Homo sapiens: one gene and its partners. The protein of the gene in region 1 interacts with the protein of each later gene in a pairwise test. Each region holds a gene or a part of one and is shown on either strand. Other genes may lie near its edges. The genes, in order: LEUTX, CDS2, TF, GOSR2, SLC13A3, PNLIPRP1 and TSPO.

Region 1 (2,469 bases):
CCCCAAAAAATCACATTAGTTCATCAGCAATGGATCCAAACCAAGAAGAAATCCGTGATATACCTGAAAAAGAATTCTGAAGGTCAGTTATTAAGCTAATCAAGGAGGCACCAGAGAAAAGTGAAGCCCAATTTAAGGAAATTAAAAAAAAAGATACAAGAAATGAGGGGAGAAATCTTCAGTGAAATAGAGAGCATAAATAAAAAATAATAAAAACTTTAGGAGACAATGGACGCCCTTTTATCCACTAGACCTAAGAAATGAGATAGACAGCAACACAATGACCAAGAACCCAAAAGCAAATGCAATAAAAACAAAGATAAATAGCTAGGACTTTATTAAACTAAAGAGATTTTGCATGGCAAAAGGAACAGCAGAGTTCTAGACAACCCACAGTCTAGAAGAAAATCTTCACAATCTATACATTTGACAAATGACTAATATCCAGAATCTGCAACGAACTCAAACAAATTAGCAAGAAAAAAACCAAACAATTCCATCAAAAAGTGGGCTAAGGACATGAATGACATGAATAGATAATTCTCAAAAGATATACAAATGGCCAACAAACATGAAAAAATGCTCAACATCACAAATGATTAGGGAAATGCAAATCGAAACCACAAGAATGGCCATAATAAAAAAAATAAAAAAAAATAGATGTTGGCGTGGATGCAGTGAACAGGCAACACTTCTACACTGCTGGTGGCAGTGTAAACTAGTACAGCCACTATGGAAAACAGTGTAAAGATTCCTTCAAGAACTATAAGTAGAACTACCATTCGATCCAGCAATCCAACTACTGGCTATCTACCCAGAGGAAAATAAGTCATTATACAAAAAAGATACTTGCACATGTATGTTTATAGCAGTACAATTCGCAATTGTAAAAATGTGGAACCAACCCAAATGTCCATCAATTGAGTGGATAAGCTGTGGTGTGTGTGTGTGTGTGTGTATATATATATATGTATATATATATAATAATTTATGTATAATGTATATAAATTATATTGTATATAATTATATATAATACAAATATTATAATTTATATATATATAATTTATATATATATAAATTATATGATGGAATGCCACTCAGCCATAAAAATGAATTAATGATATTTGTAACAACCTGGATTAGATTGGAGACCATTATTCTAAGTGAAGTAACTCAGGAATGGAAAACCAAACATCATATGTTCACACTCATAAGTGGGAGCTAAGCTATGAGGATGTAAGGGCATAAGAATGACACAATGGACTTTGGGGATTCGGGGGAAAGGGTGGGAAGGGGGTGAGGGATAAAAGACTACAAATATGGTGCAGTGTATGCTGCTCGGTTGGTGGGTGCACCAAAATCTCACAAATCACCACTAAAGAACTTACTCATGTAACCAAACACCACTTGTTCCCCAATAGCCTACGAAAATACAAAAAAAAATTTAAAAATGTTTTATTAGAATGCAAATATGTATATTCCAAAGGTAAGCTTCTTTCCTAAGCTTGACCTGTGAATCAAGAGCTTAGGCTAAACATTTGACTCACGAGACCCACTCCTCACTCTCTTGCTGGGAGTGTTCTGCATTCCTAGAAAATCAGTGCCAACTTCCACTGAGCAGGACATGTTTTTAAGCCACAGATGGGATAAGCTTATTTTGGTGGCCTCATCCTACAGCCCCTGGAGGAGGAACATCAACCTCTCCATGACATTGGGCACCAATATGTTTTCCTAGCAACTTGGGGACATCTTTCTGTTTCTCATGCTGCTAATAAAGACATACCTGAAACTGGGTAATTTATAAAGGAAAGAAGTTTAATGGACTCACAGTTCCACATGGCTGGGGAGGCCTCACAATCATGGTGGAAAGCAAGGAGGAGCAAAGCCACATCTTACGTGGTGGCAAGCAAGAGAGGGAATGAGACCTAAGCAAAAGGGGAAACCTCTTATAAAACCATCAGATCTTATGAGACTTATTCATTACCATGAGCACCGTATGGGGGAAACCGCCCCATGATTCAGTTATCTCCCACCGGATCCTTCCCACAACGCATGGGAATTATGGGAGCTACAATTCAAGATGAGATTTGGGTGAGTCCTTATTGAGATAGAATAGAATAGTGGCATGATGTTGACACCAGGTTTATATGAGTCTATAAGATTCATAAGAGTATTTGAGGCCCTATTATCCTAACCGGTCATAGACTCAGTGGCACTGCTGTCTATGTTGATTGGCTTGTGAGACCCTGAAGCTATTGGTTTGGCCATTTATTAATGGGGTCTGTAGGGAAGGAGATATGAAGCTTAGTGACCTAAGAATGAATGTCGATTCTCTCATTTACTAGCTCTGTGACTTTGGCAGCATCAGTACACTTATACTGTTTGCCTCCGTATCTTTAACAATAACATGGTCCCAGAAAGCTCACTCCTTTAGGGAAGATGTGAGTAACCAAAGAAGCAAGTCTGTTA
Region 2 (3,500 bases), on another chromosome or scaffold:
ACTGGGAGCTACACATGGACACAAAGAGGGGAACAAGAGACACCAGGGCTTGAGGGTGGAGAGTGGGAGGCTGGTGAGGATTGAAAAACTACCCATCTAGTACTATGCTCACTACCTAGGTGACAAAATCATTTGTACACCAAACCTCAGCAATGTGCAATTTGCCCGTGTACCAAACCTGCACATGTATCCCCTGAACCTAAAACAAGAATTGGAAGGAAATGAGAGACAGAAGACTACAAAGGATCTTAAAGTTTAAGCATTATGAAAAAGAGCCAGAATTCTATCACTCCACCCCACCCCCCCAATAATTATTAGGGCAGTTTCAGAACTCCTGAAAGATACAAAGAACAAGATGGATTAGGAGGGACCTAGAGCAAATCCTAACAGGAGGGAGCTCAATTCACAGGGTTTACAATAAGGCAAGCAATAAATCCTGAAATTTGGGAAATCTCAAAGAGTAAAAGACAGATAAGGATTCCAGGAGAGGTAAGGAATTCGGATTTAGGATACTGCAGGCATTTACAATACTGCAGTCCTGAAATGTTGAAGTCTCCAAGAGCAACAAACAGACAACAAACAACAAACAGATAAGGATTCCAAGTCACACCTGGTTAGAATCTGCATCCTGCCCTGGGCACGGGAACAAAGGAATAGGAGATTTCAAGCCTGAGTAACCGAGTCATCTGGGATTTTATCGCAGAAGAAAGAAACTGAAGGAGGGTGGTAAGAGTAGAATGAGAGAATTCAGATTTGAGACAAAGTCAGTTTGTGTGGACTGAAGGGCATGCACCTAGGAATGTCTTGTAGACCACTGAAACCACAGGACTAGCCAGGCATGGACTGTGGAGATATGGCTCTGAGAGTTGCCCACTCAGGGGTTCGGTGTCAATGGCAGACATCCTCTCCACATCAGAGACCCAGGGGCAGAGAGTGTTGCCCGTAAATCCCAAGTCCCAGGAACTCTCAAAACCTCAGCAAAGTCTTTACAGAGAAGCCCCAAGCTGGCCCTATGGAGACCTTAATACAAAGGAGCTTCTGCCAAAGACAACAAATCAAAAAGATGTCTGACTTTGGTAGGACAGGTCAGGTCCTTCCACACAGACAGCAGTGCTCATGAGAACCACAGTGTGGCATGAGGCTGTCCCTGGGGAGAGGCAGGCGGGAGAAAGGAAACTTCACAGAATACCCTTTGCTGCCTACAAATTCTGCACCACAGACTGCCTACTCAAAATAACACCATAAAGTTTAACTTTCTTCAAAAGGTCAGTCAACTTAGTGGGCTCAATGCCATCCCTACTGTTGGGGCAAACAACATGAGAACAAATATCAGTGACTGGCATAGGAAGCTGCCCGGTGGGGACCATACGTGGGGGTGGGGAGGGGGTGCCTCACTATTACCCCAGCCAAGTAACCACCACATGACAAGACTTGGAAGGCAGGAACCCTGCCCAGTGCCAGGAACAAATTAGCATTCTTTCAAGGAGACTTTGGCAAAATTAATAGTGAAGAGTCAGTGTCCGTCTCTTTTCTGAACCAGAGGCAGTATGACACACAAACAGCTGTACTTTTTCACCCCCAACAGCCTCTAGTGCCAGTCCAGAAGGGCTGGGAGACCTTAACAACATAGAATGTAGCTTAACAAACTGTGGAGAGGAATCTCCTCCACCTACGTGGATCCTAGAAAAGATGGAAAAGTGTGAAAACCAGAAACAGTAACACTCAAATCTTTTCAAACAGTTTAAAGGATGATTATCTGCCCTGTGAAATTAGTTACAATGGCCGGGCACGGTGGCTCACGCTGTACCAGCCCTTTGAGAGGCCGAGGCGAGAAGATCGCTTGAACCCAGGAGTTCAATGGTCAACATTTTAAGACCCTGTCTCTATTATAAAATAAGTATGTATATATTTATATATATAAATTCAAAAAAGAAATTAGTTACAAGATTCATTTTAAAAAGAGTTTCTCAAATATATTCAAGATTATATAATTTCTGGCAGTTGTAAGGTTGAGAATAAAGTGAGGGAGGAGAAATGCTTTACATTAGTAGGACAGTGCAGGTTTTATACAATCTTCTTGTTTATCAAACATATTCTGAATGATTTTATCAAGTATTATGTTCCCATATCCATCAGCTGTTAGACTCTCATGCTCATTTTCTACCTTACCAATTTAAATATGCAGTCGGCTGGGTACGGTGGCTCATGCCTGTAATCCCAGCATTGTAGAAGGCCAAGGCAGGCAGATCACCTGAAGTCAGGAATTTGAGACCAGCCTGGCCAACATGGTGAAACCCTGTCTCTACTAAAAATATAAAAATTAGCTGGGTGTGATGGTGGGCGCCTGTAATCCCAGCTACTCGGGAGGCTGAGGCAGGAGAATCACTTGAACTCGGGAGGCAGAGGTTGCAGTGAGCTGAGATCACGCCATTGGACTCCAGCCTGGGCAACAAGAGAGAAACTCCATCTCAAAAAATAAATAGATAAATAAAAATAAAACTCTTAAATATTATTGATTTAAAAAAGATTGTATTATTTCTTTAAATCAGTAGGGAAAAAATTGATTATGTGGAGTCAAAACAGGCAATAAAATTCTGAATAATATCCTTATGAACACTGATAACACCAGCCCCTCTCAGAAATACAGACACCGTCCATAGCAGACCCTACAGTCAGTGAATGTTCTAAAGAGAAGCGTTGAATACTGAATGACTGCTTATTACTAGAACAAATGGTTCTCATGCTAACAGTCATTAACTGGAAAGCATTTCTTCCAAGCACCCTCACCCACTGCCTGGGTAAGGCGCCTTGTGGTCTTCAAGCACTGCGCCGGGAGTGCCTTTCAAGGATACCAGAGTGGCCACTCCCAGGAAAGTGCTCACAAATGTCTAAATCACAGTCATCCGATAACCAGGAAAACTGAAACTAATCAACTTTCTCTATAAAACACATACATTTTTTTCTGCAAAGAGTCTCCACATTTACTCTGAGACCTTTTTAACATTTAACATTTTGAAAGATTTATATAGTATTTTTTTGATTTTGTAGCCAAATAAGAAAAATAGGTAACATTTGGGTATCATATCTATCAATGTTAATCAATAAAGAAGCTTTTAAAGTCTGTAAATTAATTCTATGAGAAAAAAATAAAAAACAACAACCGGGAATTAGAAGACCTTCATAGGCCAGGCGCGGTGGCTCACGCCTGTAATCCCATCACTTTGGTAGGCCAAGGCGGGAGTATCACCTGAGGTCAGGAGTTCGAGACCAGCCTGACCAACATGGAGAAACCCCATCTCTACTAAAAATACAAAATTAGCTGGGCGTGGTGGCATGCCCGTAATCCCAGTTACTCAGGAGGCTGAGGCAGGAGAATTGCTTGAACCCAGGAGGCAGAGGTTGCGGTCAGCTGAGATTATACCATTACACTCCAGCCTGGGCCAACAACAGCGAAACTTCGTCTCAAAAAATAAATAAATAGAAGACCTTCATAATACGAA
Region 3 (3,500 bases), on another chromosome or scaffold:
AAAAAGAACACCCACTACTTGGAGTGGCCCTGGTGGATTCTTGTCCCATTCTTACCAAATATAGTCGAGTGCTTGACAAAGGCCACATCCCCAGCACCATCCTTCAGACACCTGGGTCAAAGAAACACATCAGCAGGGCTCCTGCAGGGCAGGCCCTTCTCCTGCACCTGGAGAGTCTGATCACACTGTCCAGCACTCACACTAGGATAGAGCCTGGTGCAGCCCCGTAGCTGAAGCAACACCATGGTGTGCAGACCTCCAGCGTAGTGCTGAGATGGGGGAATGAGCTCACACGAGATAAAAAGCCCTCATAACCCAAAGAAGCAAAATGCAACTGAAGATATTTTCATGTGAAAAGAGCTTTTAAACTTCTGGAATAGAAGATAATGGTATAGTGTCTCCTGAGGGTGAAAATGTGCCTTTGGCTGGTTGTAAAACTTTAGGATATAATCAAGGTAAAAAGAGAAAGCAAGAAATCAGCTTCCCAGATAGAGACGGTGATGGGGGCAGGAGACAGGCAGTGTGCTGAGCAGGTAACACTGCTGAGATTGAGGGAAGAGGGCCAGTCCCTGGACAGTGGGCCCAGACACTAGAGGCATGATTGTCCTTTCAGGCTCTGCCCGATCCACCGAGAGGAGACACTGACCAGGCTTGAGGGCTCTGGGGAGAAAGGAAGGGTCCCCAGGAAAAGGACCTACTTGTCAGGGTCAGATGAAAGGGAACATGGGCTGGCTTGGCCTAGGAGTCCCAGGTTGTGCTTCTGACTCACTGGGAGGGGATTAGGCCACCTCGATGCCCCTGTAGGCAGGCAGGGCTCGGCTTTGGACCAGCAAAGAACTCTCACCCTGAGGACATTTGGCACTTTGGCCACCATGGAGCAGCAGACATCTCACTCACTTGAAGGCTCCCGAGTAGCCGAAGTATTGGTTAAGGGTGGAGCAGCCACACCCTGGACACAGTTGACACAGCTGGGGGAAGTCCGTCCCATCCGCACAAGGGGCACAGCTGCCCGAGAAGAAATTGGCCACTGCTGCTCAGCACAGAGAAATGGACAACAGAGCATGAGTGAGGCTGGCCACAGCCAATGGCATCACCCCACCCAGGCCCATCAGGGAACAGAGGGGACTAAAACCAAACCAGCACATGCAGCCCCAGCTTGCCCTTATGCTAACTCATCAAGATCAAGGATTTCTAATAGGAACAAGTTGACCTCTGTCTGGCCACCATCCATCAGAGGAAACAGGCCTATGCTTCCCACTAACCAAGGCCTATCTCGGGTCTTTCTCAGAGCACCTTCTCCCTGCTTTGTCAGAGGCTGGAACAGCTCAGAGAGAGGTCCCCTCTGGGATCCATGCCCCAGACATGAGAACTGCTTAAGAGAGGTGCAGGGCTCCAGAGAAACCTCCAGGAAAGAAATCCAGAGAAGTGGACAAGAGAACCACCATCGCCTAGACTGAAACCCTCTGCCGAGCCTTGCGCCCTTTCCTCACTCATCAGAACAGCCTCTGCTGGGGTTTTGGAAGCTCAGAGCAGAAAAAAGCTCAGCTCCACCTCCCAAGTGCTGCTGGTGCAGCAGACCTGCCAGTTTAAAGTCTGTTAACCTCTTTCCCCCACCTGAGTTCATCCCACATGTCTGCTGATGGTGACTGTCTAGTGCAGCCTGTGTGGGCATCTGGAGCAGAGGCAGCTGCTCGAGGGCACCCAGACTCCTGCCAGCTTACCTTTCTCAAGAGGTTTACGTGGCTCAGGTAAGTCACAGTAAAGTAAGCCTATGGGGATGTTCCACCCAGCGGACCTGCCTAGACCCGTGTGGCAGGACTTCTTGCCTCGAAGCTGGTTCATCTGGAAGCCACTATCCTTCTTCACCACAGCAACAGCATAATAGAAAGTCTGTGGATCTGCAAAGGCACAGTGTGAATGGAAGGCCCTCAGCCTGGTGCAGGGAAACATGGCTCATCACCACCGGACTCTTGAGGAGGGAGGGGAGCGGAGAGGCCATGCTTTTACTGGACTGGGCGATAAGGAGTGGGGAATCAGGAAAACCTTCCTAGGGTTGCAGGGGAGAGAGAAGACCATAGAAGGAATATTTATAATATTACCCCTCCAGGCAAACAGGGGCAAGAAGGCCACACGCACATGTGTCCTGAATGCTTTGCCTCCCCTGGCCCTGCAGCGTGTCTGCCTACACCTACCAACCTCAGCCACCAGGAAACTGGAGCTGTGGTAACAGAGGCCCATCAAAGTATTTCATGTCCCCTGGCACAGGCCCAGAGACAGTCAGGTTGATCTCAGAAGACTTGCAGGGCTGCTGGCCTCTGAGTGTGTGCTCCAGAGTGACCCCTCCTGTGTGAGTGGTACCTATGGCTCCAGAGGCCTCCAGGGACCCTAGACATATCAGTAGACCGCAGTAGCCTTCAGGTCAAGCTGCACACAGCCTGCTGTGTTTCTCTGATAAGCATATGCCCCTGGCCCAGGGCTCAGTTTTAGGAGCACCAGTCCTCAGCCAGCCCAAAGCCCCCAGAGGCCTTGATGTGTGGCTGTGGCAGCTGACAGGGCCCCTCATTCTCTACTCACTCTCCAAAGATGAATGTTCATTATATCTGATATCCAAAACCTGCCTGTAAAACACAGCACTCAGCATATAGAATAAGGATGACAACTCCTTCCTGGGGTCCCAGGGAGAACTTACCCTCTTTTGACCCATAGAACTCTGCCACCACAGGCTTCAGGTTATTGGGAGCCAGGTAAGCATCATACACCAAACCTGCATCCAGTGTCACAGCATCCGCTTCGTTTGCCTGAAAGAGAACAGGCCAGTCCTGGATGAAGCCTTGACTTCCAAGGAAGGCCCACCTCAACCCACACAAGTAGAGAGTGGCTACCAGGACTCCACGGACCCAGGGCCAGAACTTGACTAGACCACGCACAGCCCTGCTGGCTTCAGTTGACTCTGTCTCCCTCGCAAGGGCACTTAGCCACCACATTCCTATTCCTTCTGCATAGAGGGAGTGATGGATTGTGTTTCTCTTTTCCCCGGTGAGGTGCCCAGCTCCTGGCCAAAAATCCTACGTGACTTTACCGTAGGCAATTACGAAGGCTTAACCTGGCAGGCTCCGTGGGAGAAAGCCGCCCTCGCCACCCCAGACTCAGAGCACAGCCAGTGCAATGCAGTCTCTGGAGGGGACTCTGCTGTCAAGGACACAGCTCTCTTGGGCTGGCCACGCTCTTCTTACACCTGTTTTCATTCCTAGCCCATGACCTTTGCTCAGAGCCCTCTTTATTTTGAGACTTCCTTTGAGGTCTTCCTCAGGTGCTTCTGTGGAGATTTTTTTTCTGGGGGAAGATGGGAACCTTGAAAACATTCGTCTTCACTCTGACTCAGTACTCAATGCTCTTCCTTCCTGTCCTGGGTCCATAAAACTGCATGACCCTTTTGCTGAGGGATTGGGCACTTTCTCTGGGTTTAGCTTCTTGGTGATACTATGTACTGAATGATCAAA
Region 4 (3,500 bases), on another chromosome or scaffold:
TGCAGTCAGGAAGCCCAGCCCATTAGCACCCTGTCATCAGAGAAAGGACTCTGGTCTCCACAGTTAATTACTCACTGTGCACAGACTGCTTGTCTGCCGTCTCCAGGCGTCCCATGCAAGACTGGATCTCGTGGACCTGCCTATCAAAGGAAGAGGGAGGAAATGAGTGAGACAGGAGTAATCAACAGCGCTTCAGTCAGGAAAGACAATTTTTCTGATGCCAACATGTAACTGATTTAAATCGACAGCATCACTGAACTGTAAAATTTGTATGTGGCACTTTAGGTCCCACGTTTTGGCATGGTTTCTAATATCTTAACTACTAACAATAACACTGATAGGCAGATTATGGGTGCTTACCATATCCAAGATACTCTGCCAAATCAATAACCCTATGAGGAAAGTACCATTATCATCCTCATTTTATAAAAACTGAAGCCCAGAAAGGTTATGTAACTTGTTCAAGATCACACAGCAAGTGATAAACCTCAAACTGAACCCGGCCAATCCTACTTTCTGTTCTACGACCTAATGTGCTAAGCACTGGCCTGTACCAGGAAGAGTCAAAGGGCGAGGGAGATATAATCCTTGTCCTTGAGAAACAACATAATGAGGAATGACAGGCTAAACAGACATGAACAAGCCCTGGGAAGATTCACGAGAAAAGCAATACACATAAGTATAAACAAACAGAAAGAGGGGCAGCTCTGCACAGTGGTGTCACAGGCAAGCAGACAGAGGGGTGGGGCTGAGAAAGAGAAACCAGGTAAGTTATGTGGATGGAAAGAGTTCTGAGCATCGCTGTGAAGAAGGGAGACATCATTTGGTGAAGGAAGATAGAAGAAAATGATATGCAAAAATTCATTCAAGACATGTGGATTACAAGTAGGGTGGGCTGCTTGAAAGGGAATCGGGTTGGGGGAGAGGATGCTGAAGTGACTCACTGGAGGAAACCATTCAGAGGAAGACCCTGAGACAGGGACCTTCTGTTTGGTAAACATCCTTCTCCGACAATATCAAGGAACGAAGGAACTGCCATCTCATTTGGAAATGCAACACTGTACCCTGGATCTGGGTAACACTCTCTGGAGGCTTCCCACGGTCTGGCCAAGGTCATCCTTAAGACCCCCTTCCTAATGGTCCTCCATGATCAGTCCTCGGGATACTGCTTATGCTGGCCCCACCATCCACTTCCCGGTGCTCACGGTGGAGATTTCCCCAAGTTAGGGCCCACATGAAGGGGGCCTGCTGGACTCTCACATCATCCCCAACGCTGGAGGAAAGGTCAGCAACCATTCTGCATCGTGAGCAATGCAAACCAGGACCCCAAATCTACCAATGCCAGCCAGGCACCCAACTTTGGCTTCAGCTTGTGCCCAGTCTTTTCCAGGGCTTCCCTATGGCCTCCAGATATGCCCTCGGGCACCAAAAGAAGCTGGGTGAGCTGTCAAATGACTCCCCAGGGTGCTCCTAGGCAAGACCTGTGGCCCTGAGAAGCAACTAGAAATCACTGCTAGAGTCCGAGACCAGGCCGTTGCTTCCGGAAAGTAAGTCTGGGATATTGTGGGATGATGCGGGGGTGTGGAGGTATGGGGGCTGATGTAGGAATGCAGCCTGAGGTAGCCGACACCTGAAGCAGGGCAACCAAGGGAACAGGTACAGGGGACCGGAGGGTAACGGGGACAGAAAGGAGAATTAGGACTCTAAGGAAGTCCTGACGCAGGCTGTGAGGTAAATTTTCAATGCTGATTTAACAGAAAAATCTGAAAGTTGGTAATATGATCAACACGAACAGTGACATAATAAAAAGGGGGGAGGTAAAGAATAGCCAAGACCACTCTGAAGAAGGAGGGGGAGGAATGACTTGTCCCACCTGCCATTATGACTTACAAAGCAGTAACAATGGAAACAATATGGCGGCAGTGCAGGTGCAGACAGACAAGGAAAGGCAAACCCTACAGCTGGCCCAAGAGGAAAGAAACAGCCTAGACACAGCCCCACGTTATTTGGGAGCTTTTGAAAGAAGGGACTACAATAAATGCCAACAGCTCCGGTTTGTTACCCGTACAGAAAAAGGCCACCTCAGGTAACACATAAAAATAAACTCAAGCTCACTTAAAACCCAAATGGAAAAAGCAGAGCAGCTTTCAAACTTTCTGAAGAAAATACAGGTGTGCATAAATGACCTCGGGTTACAGAAGATTTCTTAAATAAGACAAAATCCAAAAACTACCCACCCCCACAAAACCCACAAACCACAAAGAAAAAGATGGATACATCTGACAACATGAAAACAAAAAACTTCTGTACACCAAAGCCACAAAATAAACAAATGAATGGCACAGACTGGAGGGTATCTGCAGCAGATAACAAAGGATTGACGTGCAGAAAATATATAAAGAATTGTTACAAATCAATACAAAAAGTCAAACAAGGCATTTTTTTTAAATGAAAAAAGGGCAAATGACAGAAAAGAAAACCCAAATGGTCAATCAATATACAAAATGACACTCAACTAGGAAAACACAAATGAAAAGCAATGAGATCACATTTCTTCAGCCCATCAAACTGACAAATATTTTAAAGTTTGGGGACATATGCATTAATAAGGAAACAGGGAAACTAGAACTCTCATACCCAGCTGGTAGGATTATAAATTGGTAAAACACTTTAAATGCTTTCTGACAATAACTAGTAGAATAAAGCATGTGTCCATGCTATGACCCAGCAGTTTGAGGAATGTGTCCTAGAGAGGTTCTGGCATACCCTGAGGAGATGTACATGGCAGGACGTTCATCAAAGCACTTTTGTACAGGCCCATAATCCACTGACTTTTCCCATCAAATCTCTATTTGCTTTGAACCAATCAGAGACAATGTGGCCAATAATACAATTCCAGCGGCTACATTTCATGCTAAGAAAACATAAATATGAAACAACAAAGCAAGTATGAATGGCAAGGTGGGAACTACTAATATGCCAAGTGCAAAATCTGTCTCAAACTGAACTGGGAATTCTAACACAACATAACACACTGGAAGTCCATAAGAAACAGGTGATACACAAGCATGACTTGGGAGCGTGGACATGAGGAAAAAGAAGTCTTAGCCCTCTCTAGCATGGGGTCCATGGTGGGCTTGGGTGATAATATAACAAAGCAGAGAAATAGTAGCAAATAAGCCAGGGTCATTGTAGCCGTCTTTAAAAAAGGTTTACAGAAGATCTAGGAAGAATTTTTTAATGGAAGTGCTTTTTAAAAGTTCATGAAACTACTCACCGCCCCCCACCACCCCATAACATCCACTTTGCATCCAGGCTGCCTCTGACCATGATGAACATGAAAACGCTGTGTAACCTACACAGCATCATGTAAGTTTGTTGTTAACTTTACTTAAAAGTAGTGGCAACAATCTGGTCATTTTCATTTCACTCACTTTGCCTTTACATTTCGCTCATTAAAGGGCAAAATCTATAAAGGAAAAACATGGTCTTGAGATAAG
Region 5 (4,077 bases), on another chromosome or scaffold:
AATAGAAGTGACTCACCCCCCTTAAAAAAAAATAAGAATAACGGCCGGGCGTGGTGACGCACACCTGTAATCCCAGAACTTTGGGAGGCCCGAGATGGGCGGATCATGAGGCCAGGAGTTCGAGACCAGCCTGGCCAAAATGGTGAAACCCCATCTCTACTAAAAATACAAAAAAAAAAAAAAAAAAAATTAGCCAGATATGGTGGCACACGCCTGTAATCCCAGCTACTCAGAAGAATTGCTTGAACCCGGGAGGCAGAGGTTGCAGTGATCCGAGATCGCTCCACTGCTCCCCAGCCCAGCCTGGGTTACAGAGTGAGACTACATCTCAAAAAAAAGAAAAAAAAACCCAAAAATAAGAATAACTCATCAGCAGCAATAACTCTCATTGAGCACCTGCTCTGCCAGACACTGCGCTAATCACATTACATGTGTTATCTCATTTAAACTTCCTAACAACCTTCTTGTCTGGTGTAGACTATTTTTAAAAATTTAACTTTTAAGTTCAGGGGTACATGTGCAGATTTGTTGTATAGGTAAACTTGTGTCATGGGGATTTGTTGCACAGATTATTTCGTCATCCAGGTATTAAGCCTAGTGCCCATTAGTTATTTTTCCTGATCCTCTGTCTCCTCCCACCCTCCAGCCTCCCATAGGCTTCAGTGTCAGTTGTTCCCCTCTATGTGTCCATGTGTTCTCATCATTTAGCTCCCGCTTATAAGTGAAAACATGCGGCATTTGGTTTTCTGTTCCTGTGTTAGTTTGCTAAGGATAATGGCCTCCAGCTCCATCCATGTTCCCGCAAAAAACATGATGTCCTTCTTTTTTGTGACTGCATAGTATTCCATGGTGTAGACTATTATTATCACCACTCCACTTTCAGGCTCAGAGGCTGTTGTTGAAGGCCACGCAGTGAGTAAGTGGCCGTGCCAGGATTTGAACCCGGGTAATAGGAGTACGCGCCTTAATCCTCGCCTTGTCATCCTCAGCCATCTCACAGGCGAGTAAACAGAGGCGAGGAGAGGATAAGCCAGCTGCCCCAGGCCACATTGCTGGGAAGCCAAGAGGCAAGGCCACACTGCCCTGCGGCTGGGGTCCCGTTTGCTAATTCTAGTGCCTAACTTTCTCCAACGTTCCCGGGCCTCTTTCACCCGGTCCCAGGGGCGCAGGCACCACCCTTTTCCTCCAGGAGGAGCAGGGAGAGGGCGGGTTCCCCAGCGCAGTCCCCTCCCCGACCCTCCCCCAGGCTTTAAGCCGGCGCCGGGGCCAGGCGGGGCAGTCCCGGGCCGGCCCGTACCGCCAGGCGATCGCGCTGATGGCGGCGCTGGCAGCAGCGGCCAAGAAGGTGTGGAGCGCGCGGCGGCTGCTGGTGCTGCTGTTCACGCCGCTCGCGCTGCTGCCGGTGGTCTTCGCCCTCCCGCCCAAGGTAACGCCTCCTCCGCCTGTGCGCCCCCGGTCAACCACAGGCGGGATCCTCTTCTCCCAAGCCTCCAAGTTGGGAGACCGCTGAGGTCCCAGTGTAGACAGGCTCCACCAGACCCCCTCGCCTTCCCTCCCTTGCACCTGCCGCGGACCGCTGTGAACGCTCCTAACGCCTCTTCCCTCTTCCCAGCTGCTCCTTAGAGCTTGAGTCCCACCCTGCCTTCTGGATCTCACTTCCATGGGAATAATTTCGTTTCGTTTCAGTGACAGGTTCTCGCCGGTCACCCAGGCTGGAGTGCAGTGATGTGATCATAGCTCACTGCAGCCTCCAACTCCTGGACTTAAGCGATCCTCCTTCCGCAGCCTCCCTAGTGGCTAGAACTACAGGTGCATGCCCAGCTAATTTTTTTTTAATAGAGATAGGGTCTCACTATGTTGTCCAGGCTGGTCTGGAACTCCTGGACTCAAGCAATTCTCCCACCTTGGTCTCCCATATACTGGGATTACAGACGTGAACCACTGTGCCTAGCAGAATTCTTTCTTTCCTGAGCTCTAATTCTGTGCTTGGTGCTGTATTGCACATTTCACGCGACAGTCACAATGAACACTTACTGGGTGCCAAGCTGTGTGACATGGTGCAAGTCACTTAACCTCTCTGAACTTCAGTTTACTCATGTGTAAAAATGGGAGAAATGATAGTGCCCACCCATAGGGCAGCGGTGAATATCAATGAGGCAATATATGTAAATCTCTTATAACTAAACCTTGTACAGAATAAATGCCCAATAAGCAGTGACTGGTCTTTTTCTGCACCAGGTCCTTACGTGATGAGGACGGTAAGATTCATGAGTGCTTACTACGGGTGAGGATTTGCCTTTTGTGTATCACTTTATTTAATCATTTCAACGCGTCTCAGAGGGGAAAGATTATTTGACCCATTTTCCAGAGGAGAAAACCAAGGCTCGGGGAGAGAAAGTGACTTGCTCAGAGTCACACAGCAAGTGACTATGTCGGTATTCAGTCCCCGGCTTGTCAGAATCCAGAACCCTAGCTGTTTTCAGTCTCCCCAAGGAAGTAACCCCTGTAAGATCAAAGGCCGCAGGTGGAGTTCAGGAGTCATAACTGAAATCAACACTAGTGGGGGCTGGAAGGAGATGGTACCACAGGTCCCTTTTGGGTTCTTCACCTGTGCCCTGCCCAGCCCAGCCAGGGCATCATGAGAGGGCACTGGGCTTGTAAGATAAGGCTTCTACCTCCAGGAAGTTGCTTCACCATCTCTCAGTGAGGTATTAAATGTTCACAAAAATAAAAGTAAAGAGGAGGTATAATTTAGTGGTGCATTACCCAGCACCGATCAGCTGAGACCAGGGAGCTTCTCCTGGAAGAAGGAGCCCTCCTTGGGCACATGGAGTAAGAAGGTGACACCAGTGGTTCCAAGGAGACCCAGGGCTAACACACAGCAAGTTCATTAGTGTGGAATTATCTAAGCTATTAGACTTTCTCGACGTGGAAGAGAAAAACACAATAAATGATGGAAGAAGGATGAGGTCACCTTTGCAAAACTCAGCCCACCCCAGGCCACTTTCTGACCTGTGGATCTTAAGATCTTGGACCAATCTCCTTTCCTCTTTGGGTTTTGCTTCCCTGTAAGTGGAGCGATTACACCGCTAGCTTCTGGGATTGATGTGAGAGGTTGAGTAAGGCTTTGTGAAACATCTTTGGTGGAAGTGTGGGTGGCTGAGCCTTGACTGATTGCTGTCTGCGAGGCCATAGGCAGAGCTCTCTGGCAAGAAGAGATAAAACACAAGGTCTCTATTCTCTCAGTAGGGGTCCCGACAGCTTCTCTCTGCTCTGTTCTCTAGCAAGAACATGAACCCAGGAGCAGATCCAAGGGTTAAGGGGCGGGGAGCATTTACTACTTGAGGGGGACTCTTGAAGAAAATGAATACAGATTTACAAATACAGGATTCGGTACGAGGCTTGGGAGAGGTCTGAAGCTTGAGCTTCACAAAGGATCCTCTTCCTATCTGAACTCCAACATGCACAACTGAATGGAAAGCAGGGAGAGATAACAGGGAGAGCCCCTGGGATGTAACTAATCCCTTATGATGGTGCTAAGCCTGATGAAGAAGGTGTTTTATTGAGTGCTTAGCTCTTACCATGTGCTAGGGGCCATGCTAGGAGCTTGTCAGGCTTGTCCCATGTAATGCCCACAACAACCAGAGAGGCAGCTGTTATTTGCATCCCTATTTGACAGGTGAAGAAACGGAAACTCAGCGGGGTTAGGTGACTTGCCTAAGGTTACACAGCTGCTGCAAAGCCAGAATGCAGAGTCTGTACTCCTTTATGTGTGTGTGTGTGTGTGTGTGTGTATGTGTGTGTGTGTGTGTGTGTGTGTGAGAGAGAGAGAGAGATAGGGTCTTGCTCTGTAACACAGGCTGGAGTGCAGTGGCACGATCTTGGCTCACTGCAACCTCCACCTCCCAGGCTTAAGCCATCCTCCTGCCTCAGCCTCCCAAGTAGCTGGGACTATCAGCTCCTGTCACCACACCCGGCTAATTTTTATATTTTTAGTAGAGACGGGGTTTCACTATGTCACCCAGGCTGGTCTCAAACTCCTAGACTCAAGCGATCCACCAGCCTCGGCTACGCAAA
Region 6 (3,500 bases), on another chromosome or scaffold:
TCTTGAACCCAGGAGGTGGAGGTTGCAGTGGAGCTGAGATCATGCCACTGTACTCTAGCCTGGGCAACAGAGCGAGATTCCATCTCAGTCATTCTCCCACGACTGTTGAGAATTCCATGATAAGAACGTAACATCCCATGATGGTAAATGTAAAAAGTCTTACAATTAACAAAAAACAATGCAGATGTAAGCAGTTATTTTTGTGGTTGTTCAAGAACCACGGACTTCTCTCAGGCCTCACCACCTGTGAGCTCGGAAGCTTTGCCCCATTTCCTCACTGGTGTTCCTTGGCCCCTTCCCACTTTCTCTTCTGTGTTTCATTTTTTCTGCCAAGAAGCCCTAACTTGGCATCGGAGGCCTCCGATCATATTCCCTGCACTTGGGCCCTGTCGCCCCTCATGCACTTGGACCTGTTGCCCTGCCCCTGTGCCCTTCCTCCCTCCTACTCCCTGCCTCATCCTGAGAGCTGCCCTTCCTTCCATCACAGCCTCCCCGCGGCCCTCTGCTTTCCTCCTTGGCCACTGTCTTTCTGAGCCTCTCCTGGGAGTTCTTTATTTGGTCTTTTGACCTTCCCTGTGAACCATAAGTCTGATTTTTCTCAACAGCTGAACTGTAAGCTCCTTGAGTGTAGGCTCAGTGTTTGCATCCCTTACTGTTTGCCAGGCCATACAATAGGTACTGAATAAAGTCATTTGCAAGGGTACATTTACCAAAGGTACTTAATAAAGAGAGGGGGACGGAGAAATAAAGAGGGGGAGGGCTGCCTTTCTCTTTGGATACTGTGTCATTGGAGGGAATCCTAGTCGGCAGATTCCTTAGTAGGAATTGAAACCCCAATGAGGTTACTAAAAAATATGAGGGGATTCTGAGAAGAGCTTGGACCAAAATCTTGATTTTCTTTAGCTTCTTCATTATTATTATTATTATTATTATTATTAAATGTTACTGGCCATTTTCATAACAGGAAAATGTTTGAGTAATTCAACTAATTCAGTGTTTTTACTTCCCAAACTAGTTTGAGAGATTTGAAGCTGTTTTGACTTTCCTCTGTTTAGAAAACCTGATGTCTTATATCCAGCTGCTCTTAAGAAAGAGTCTTTCTGGAGCAGACAGCGAGGGGAGCTGCACTCAGCCACTGGAATGCAGGTGACAGCTGATGGGCACAGGACCTCAGGTGCAGCCTTAAGTATGTTCTGTTCCATTTGCAGAAAGTTCAGAAAGCCTCAGCCTTTCCTCAGAAAACCTGGAAGATGCAATGCCCTGGCTGATTTGGACTTGTATGCCTTACCTGTGAGCAAGTCATCTCCTGGGAACACCTCTAATTTTTAAGATTCCAATGATGCCACCACCTGACATGTTTTTAACCACACAGTCCCAGGATCCAGGCCATGGGATGCTTGCTAATGGGGCCTTGGGGAGCTGAATTTAGAGGCTGAGTATCCTCTGATGGGGTCAGGGAGGAAAGGATTTGGTTGCACCTCCAGCTTGCACAGGGCTCCCGACCAGCCCGGCCCAGCCTCCTCTGTACTATGCTCTAGCTTATGAGGCCTCCTGGTTCCACCCACCACCTGGCAGGGCCAACCTCTTTGTTCTCCTTGCCTCGTGGGGATAAGGAGAACCTCACTAAGTCATCCAGTTCGAGGAGACCCAGATGTGGAGTCAGCCCCCATTCTACTCTGCCACCCCACCCTCCCCACCTGGGGGAGTGACAATCTCTGGGACCTGAACTCGGTGACTCCACCTAACCCCAAACTTCAAGAACATCGGTGGCTGAGAGCCCAGGATCTCCTTCCCACAAAGCCACATGTTCTACTAGCCAGACTTGGGGTCTGAGGTTTGAGAGACAGTCGCTCTGCCCTCTCAGGTCACCACTCCAACTTTCCTCCAGCCGTCCCTTTTTCCTACCCACGGCCCTGTGCTTATTCAGGCCCAAAGCCAGGGAGACCACAGGTCAGGATCTCACAAGTATTGCAATCCTAGTGCATTCTTGTCCTATGTAAAATTTTCGATCTTTTCCTAAAACCGATTTATTTTCCGTTTTATTATCCTGAAATGTAATTGGTCTTCTCCTCTTTCAAGTATAGCTATTCACTAGCCCATACTTATAAACTTGTACCCTTCAGAAAGGATTTCTTGTTCTCTTTCTTGTATTTTCTCATTTTACCTTGAAAGTGCAGCCTTATCTTCTGTATTCCCACAGGCAGTGCTGAGAACACCCAATAAGGTGCACCCAACAGAAACATTTTATGCTGTTTGTCAGTTGCTTGTTTGGGGAGAAGGGGCCACAGATGGGTAAATTTTCTTGGCTTTTCTTGCTTAACTACACGTAACTTTCTAGGGTGGGTTTTCATTATAACATGAATCTCTGCAAACATTTTTAGGCACCAGCCAGCAAAGATACATACACTGTCTTCTCTTCTCCCTTTTGCACAGTGATCTTGGTGGCACCCACTTTGGGGAGGGTTGGATTTATCACATTGTTATTCCAAAGAAACTTGACTTTCTCAATTGTTCCAACATCCAGCTTTGCATCAAACTCATAGGAATGGGTTGAGCCTGGTTTGAGAATCCCCCTTGAAATAGAGAAACATAAACATCCCTGTTCACGGAAATGAGTTCTAATTACCATACAATGCCAGGCTGCTGTTTTCTCTTCTAGATTAACAGGATTATTTTTCCGAATTAATTTCCAAATAAAGGATGGAGAAATGGAAAAGCCAGCTATATGCTAGCACCTCAAACTATGGTTTTTAAAACTCAAGTTAATTTTTCCTTAAAGCTTTCTAATAGAAAATAAAATAGAATTCCTGCATATCATTTTATATGTTTTGGAAGAATTATTTGTACAGTAACAAATTGGCCACATAGTATGGCACAATAAGCATGTGTTATTGCACTAATCAGAAAACAGCATATCTGAAGTAATATTAGATTTATGTTTAAAAAAACATCTATTAAGAGAAAGAGGCCGGGCATGGTGGCTCACGTCTGTAATCCCAGCACTTTGAGAGGCCGAGATGGGTGGATCACTTGAGGTCAGAAGTTCGAGACCAGCCTGGCCAACATGGCAAAACGCCCCCCATCTCTACTAAAAATACAAAAATCAGCCAGGTGTGGTGGCACATGCCTGTAATCTCAGCTACTTGGGAGGCTGAGGCACGAGAATTTCTTGAACCCGGGAGGCGGAGGTTGCAATGAGCCAAGATCGTGCCACTGCACTCCAGCCTGGGTGACAGAGCAAAGACTCTTTCTCAAAAAAAAAAAAAAAAAAAAAAAAGAGAGAGAAAGGACGAAATGCCTAGGTTTATAACAGAAAAGAAAAATTATTAGCAGAAGTCTGCAATTAACATCAGTACATAAAGTTATATAGTCCTGCGTTGCTTAACAATGGAGATATGTTCTGAGAAATGTGTCCTTAGGTAATTTAATCATTGTGTGGACATCATAGCATGTACTCACACAAACGTAGATGGCACAGCCTACTACATACCTAGGCTGTA
Region 7 (3,500 bases), on another chromosome or scaffold:
GCTGGCCTGGGATCCATGGAGCTGGGTGAGCACAGAAGCAACCTCAGTGCCCAGCAGCCAGGGACTATTAAAGACTGGCCCCCCACAAACCAAGCTTCTGAAGGCTTTCTAGTAACGAGAAAGTTGTTCTCAACATAACACGAAGAAAGCAGAATATAACATTGACTACAGAATGACCCCAATTTTGGCAAAAAATGGATAACATAGATATGCGCTTTTTTTGAGACAGAGTCTTGCTCTGTTGCCCAGGGTGGAATACAATGGCGCGATCTCAGCTCACTGTAACCTCTGCCTCCCAGGTTCAGGGGATTCTCCCGTCTCAGCCTCCTGCCTCCCAAGTAGCTGGGATTACCAGCATGTGCCACCATGCCGGGCTAATTTTTGTATTGTTAGTAGAGACAGGGTTTCACCATGTTGGCCGGGCTGGTCTCAAACTCCTGACCTGAGTTGATCTGCCTGCCTCAGCCTCCCAAAGTGCTGGGATTACAGGCGTGAGCCACCGCGCCCGGCACGTTTTAAAGGAACAGAGTGTCAGGCATCCAGCAGATTCCGGTGCTGCCACTTACTATGATTCCCTCCCCTCCCTGGACCTCAGTTTTCTCGCCTGTTGAATGGGGACAGTTACCCCATCCCCCAAGGTCGCTGCAAAAATGAGCAGTAAGGATGGACATTCTGGGGGGGTGGGCATGTGACCTATGTCCCGGCAAGAAACGTTCCTGTGTTCTCCCTCCCGCTCCCTCCTGCCCCGCCCCTCCCTCCTGCCCCGCCCCGCCCTCCTGCCCCGCCCTCCAGCTTCCAGGGTACACGTGCTCATGGGGTGGGGATGGGGGTCTGATGTCACTACACATATGAAAGGCCACCCTCCCTGGGGCAGGAGGTACTGCTGAGCACTGGCCCTGCACCACCGCCAAGTGGATATGGAGCTCTGGACCACAGCCCTGGGACCACCTCCCAGCTCAGCCTCCCACTACATCCTCTCAGGTAAGCCCAGGCCAGCTCAGCCTACTGCTCATCTGGGCAACCAAGACATAACCGCTGCTCTGCTGGAGCCTGCGTGAGTCCACAGCTGAGTGACATTGTGGGGGAACCATAAGGAGCCTCGTTCAGCCTCCACTGGAAACGAGCCGGACCAGGGTGCCTGTACGTGCCTTTTCCCAGGACACCCTCAGTTGAGGCCCACCTGCCCCACACTAATGGCCTGCTCTCACTCACAGGTGTCCCTGTCCAGGCGAGCAAGGTTAATACCACCAGCATAAGACACGTGGACATCCCGAACCCCTTGATACGACATGGAAGCTGGTGCGCTTTCAGTGATGTTCATGCCACAAATGGAAACCCCCAGTGCAGGCGTGAGCCACCGTGCCCAGCCTAAAATTAACCGTTTTAAAGTGCACCATTCAGCAGCATTTGTATATTCCCAATGTTGTGCAACCACCCTCTGTATCAAGTTCCAAAGCATTTTCAACCCCTAAAAGAAACCCCGTATCCATCAGCAGTGGTTCCCCTCCCCCTCCCTCCCACCCCTGGCCGCCAGCAATCTGACTTCTCTCTGGGGACTTGCCCATCCTGGACATTTGGTATCAATGGAATCACGCAGTGTGTGGCCCTCGTGTCTGGCTTCCTTCACTGAGCGCCATGTTCTAGAGGTCCTCACCTTGTAGCACGTGGCAGAACTCCCCACGATTCTGTCACCTGGCTCCAGCACCCAGCCAGGGCCAGGCACACACTCGGTCCCCAGGAAATCACAATGGGACTCACCCAGTGTTCCCACTGACAGGGCCTTAGAGACCACCATCCAGGTCCCCCGTTGTATGGAACGAATAAAAGTCACAGAGGCATGGTGGCTTTCCCAAGGCCACAGCAAGAGAGCAGGGTCTGAAGCCAGTTCTGAGTCCCGTGCTCACACTCCCACCCCAGGCTGCCCCCTTCTCAGGCCTGGCTGTGGTTATGACCCACAGGGCCAAGGGGCTCAGAGGGTCTGCCCCACCAGAAAACAGGCGGTCAGATGCCCCACAAGGAGAAAGCCTGGTCGGGGGCGGGGAGTTTCCTAGGGCCTCTGGGGAACTGCCCAGCTCCTGAATTGCCCAAATGGGGAACAGGTGGGCAGGGGCGGTACCCACCATGATGAGTCATGCTGAGCCAGGCTAGGCAGGATCCAGATATCTGCTCTGGGATGAGTCCAGGGAAAGCTGGGGTGGGCCAGGCCAGGGGGCACACATGGCAGGGACAGGACTCAGGCTCAGGCAGAGGGGTGAAGCCACCTATACACCCTTTATTTGTCTCCTTCAGAAAGCGAATCGGGATCCAGACCTCGGCTCTGCCTCCATCCAAGGCTCGTCTCTGGGCCTGGCTTCCTCCAACGTCAGGTGGGTAAACCCGCTGTGTCTGCTTCTTGGGGGGCTGGGGTAGCTCAAGGGAGGAAGGGGTGGGACAACAACGTTTCCCTGAAAACTCCAGAGAAGAGAGGGGTTGTGGGTATCAGTGTGGGGCCACTAGCCCCATTTCCTCCAGGGGAAGACAGGGCCTCAAGGCTTGGACCTGTGACGAGACCTTATCAGCCACGAGAGCCCCTGGACACTCCACAGGTGAAAATGCCCTGCACGGAGCAGCGCCCCCAAAACAGGGGCAAGATCGGGGCAGGGTAGAGGGCGCAGGACGTAGAGGCAGGAGAAGGTTCCAAGCCTTGCTCAGCTCTGGTTGTGCACAGGCCTCTGGTAGGCAGGGGCCTGCGTGGTGGAGTCCGTGCTCATCCCGACGGTCACCGCCTTGTTCAGTCCCCACAGCAGCCACAGGGGACCAGCTGCTTCTCCCTGAGCCACACGGCCCACTCGGCCTCCATGGTGGACTCGTGACTGGTCCCATTTTCCAGATGAGGAAACTGAGACATGAGAAGTCACAGAACTTTCTAGGTCCGAGTGACTCCAAAACCCACCCCACCCCTCCCTTTGAGCTGGGTGTCTGCCGGGCTGCTCTGGGCCGCGTGACCACTTGCCAGGAGTTGTGTCACCGCCCGTCTCAGCCTCCTTCCTCATCTGAAACAGGGCTCATAGAGCCTGCGGCGCCAGGATTGGACCCGCAGGCCACTCCACCCCACCTCTGAACGGTGCCAGAAGGTTCTCTCAGGGCCAGTAGCATCACTCTCTCCACCTGCCGCGGCAACATCCCAGCCCCCACAGAGCATCGGGCCCTGCAGAATCTGAGCCCTTCCCCACTGAGGGTGGGACCCAGGGTCTCCAGGTCTTGTGAGGCTTCACTCCTGGCCCGAAGACCCCAGACCCATCGCTGCCCCAAGGTATCTCATCTCCTGAGCCTCTGTGTCCCCATCTATGAGGTGGTGGTCGAGCCAGTGGGTTTCAGGGTGTCTTTCTGTTCTTGGAGACCTCCCTATAGGTGACCCAGAAGGCCAGGAACGGTGGCTCACACCTGTAATCTCAGCACTTTGGGAGGCTGAGGCAGGCAGATCACCTCAGGTCAGGAGTTCGAGACCAGCCTGGCCAACA

Evidence for each region.
Region 2: the proteins of LEUTX (region 1) and CDS2 interact in binary tests that used the Homo sapiens proteins (3 or more experiments, as listed by UniProt).
Region 3: the proteins of LEUTX (region 1) and TF interact in binary tests that used the Homo sapiens proteins (3 or more experiments, as listed by UniProt).
Region 4: the proteins of LEUTX (region 1) and GOSR2 interact in binary tests that used the Homo sapiens proteins (3 or more experiments, as listed by UniProt).
Region 5: the proteins of LEUTX (region 1) and SLC13A3 interact in binary tests that used the Homo sapiens proteins (3 or more experiments, as listed by UniProt).
Region 6: the proteins of LEUTX (region 1) and PNLIPRP1 interact in binary tests that used the Homo sapiens proteins (3 or more experiments, as listed by UniProt).
Region 7: the proteins of LEUTX (region 1) and TSPO interact in binary tests that used the Homo sapiens proteins (3 or more experiments, as listed by UniProt).

What each region holds. Positions count from the first base shown.
Region 1 is NC_000019.10:39,781,854-39,784,322, reverse strand, and holds part of LEUTX (paired-like homeodomain transcription factor LEUTX), read right to left. Parts: intron 1-2,469.
Region 2 is NC_000020.11:5,133,508-5,137,007, reverse strand, and holds part of CDS2 (phosphatidate cytidylyltransferase 2), read right to left. Parts: intron 1-3,500. UniProt on the Homo sapiens protein: Catalyzes the conversion of phosphatidic acid (PA) to CDP-diacylglycerol (CDP-DAG), an essential intermediate in the synthesis of phosphatidylglycerol, cardiolipin and phosphatidylinositol.
Region 3 is NC_000003.12:133,752,893-133,756,392, reverse strand, and holds part of TF (serotransferrin isoform 1 precursor), read right to left. Parts: intron 2,799-3,500; coding exon 2,690-2,798; intron 1,899-2,689; coding exon 1,722-1,898; intron 1,031-1,721; coding exon 898-1,030; intron 112-897; coding exon 56-111; intron 1-55. UniProt on the Homo sapiens protein: Transferrins are iron binding transport proteins which can bind two Fe(3+) ions in association with the binding of an anion, usually bicarbonate.
Region 4 is NC_000017.11:46,926,160-46,929,659, reverse strand, and holds part of GOSR2 (Golgi SNAP receptor complex member 2), read right to left. Parts: intron 141-3,500; coding exon 76-140; intron 1-75. UniProt on the Homo sapiens protein: Involved in transport of proteins from the cis/medial-Golgi to the trans-Golgi network.
Region 5 is NC_000020.11:46,648,660-46,652,736, reverse strand, and holds the start of SLC13A3 (Na(+)/dicarboxylate cotransporter 3), read left to right. Parts: upstream 1-1,277; 5' UTR 1,278-1,315; coding exon 1,316-1,426; intron 1,427-4,077. UniProt on the Homo sapiens protein: High-affinity sodium-dicarboxylate cotransporter that accepts a range of substrates with 4-6 carbon atoms, such as the citric acid cycle intermediates succinate and alpha-ketoglutarate (2-oxoglutarate), as well as other compounds including N-acetyl-L-aspartate.
Region 6 is NC_000010.11:116,604,459-116,607,958, reverse strand, and holds part of PNLIPRP1 (inactive pancreatic lipase-related protein 1 precursor), read right to left. Parts: intron 2,818-3,500; exon of another isoform or gene 2,574-2,817; coding exon 2,406-2,573; exon of another isoform or gene 1,056-2,405; intron 1-1,055. UniProt on the Homo sapiens protein: May function as inhibitor of dietary triglyceride digestion. Lacks detectable lipase activity towards triglycerides, diglycerides, phosphatidylcholine, galactolipids or cholesterol esters (in vitro).
Region 7 is NC_000022.11:43,154,559-43,158,058, reverse strand, and holds part of TSPO (translocator protein), read right to left. Parts: exon of another isoform or gene 2,121-3,500; intron 1-2,120. UniProt on the Homo sapiens protein: Can bind protoporphyrin IX and may play a role in the transport of porphyrins and heme. Promotes the transport of cholesterol across mitochondrial membranes and may play a role in lipid metabolism, but its precise physiological role is controversial.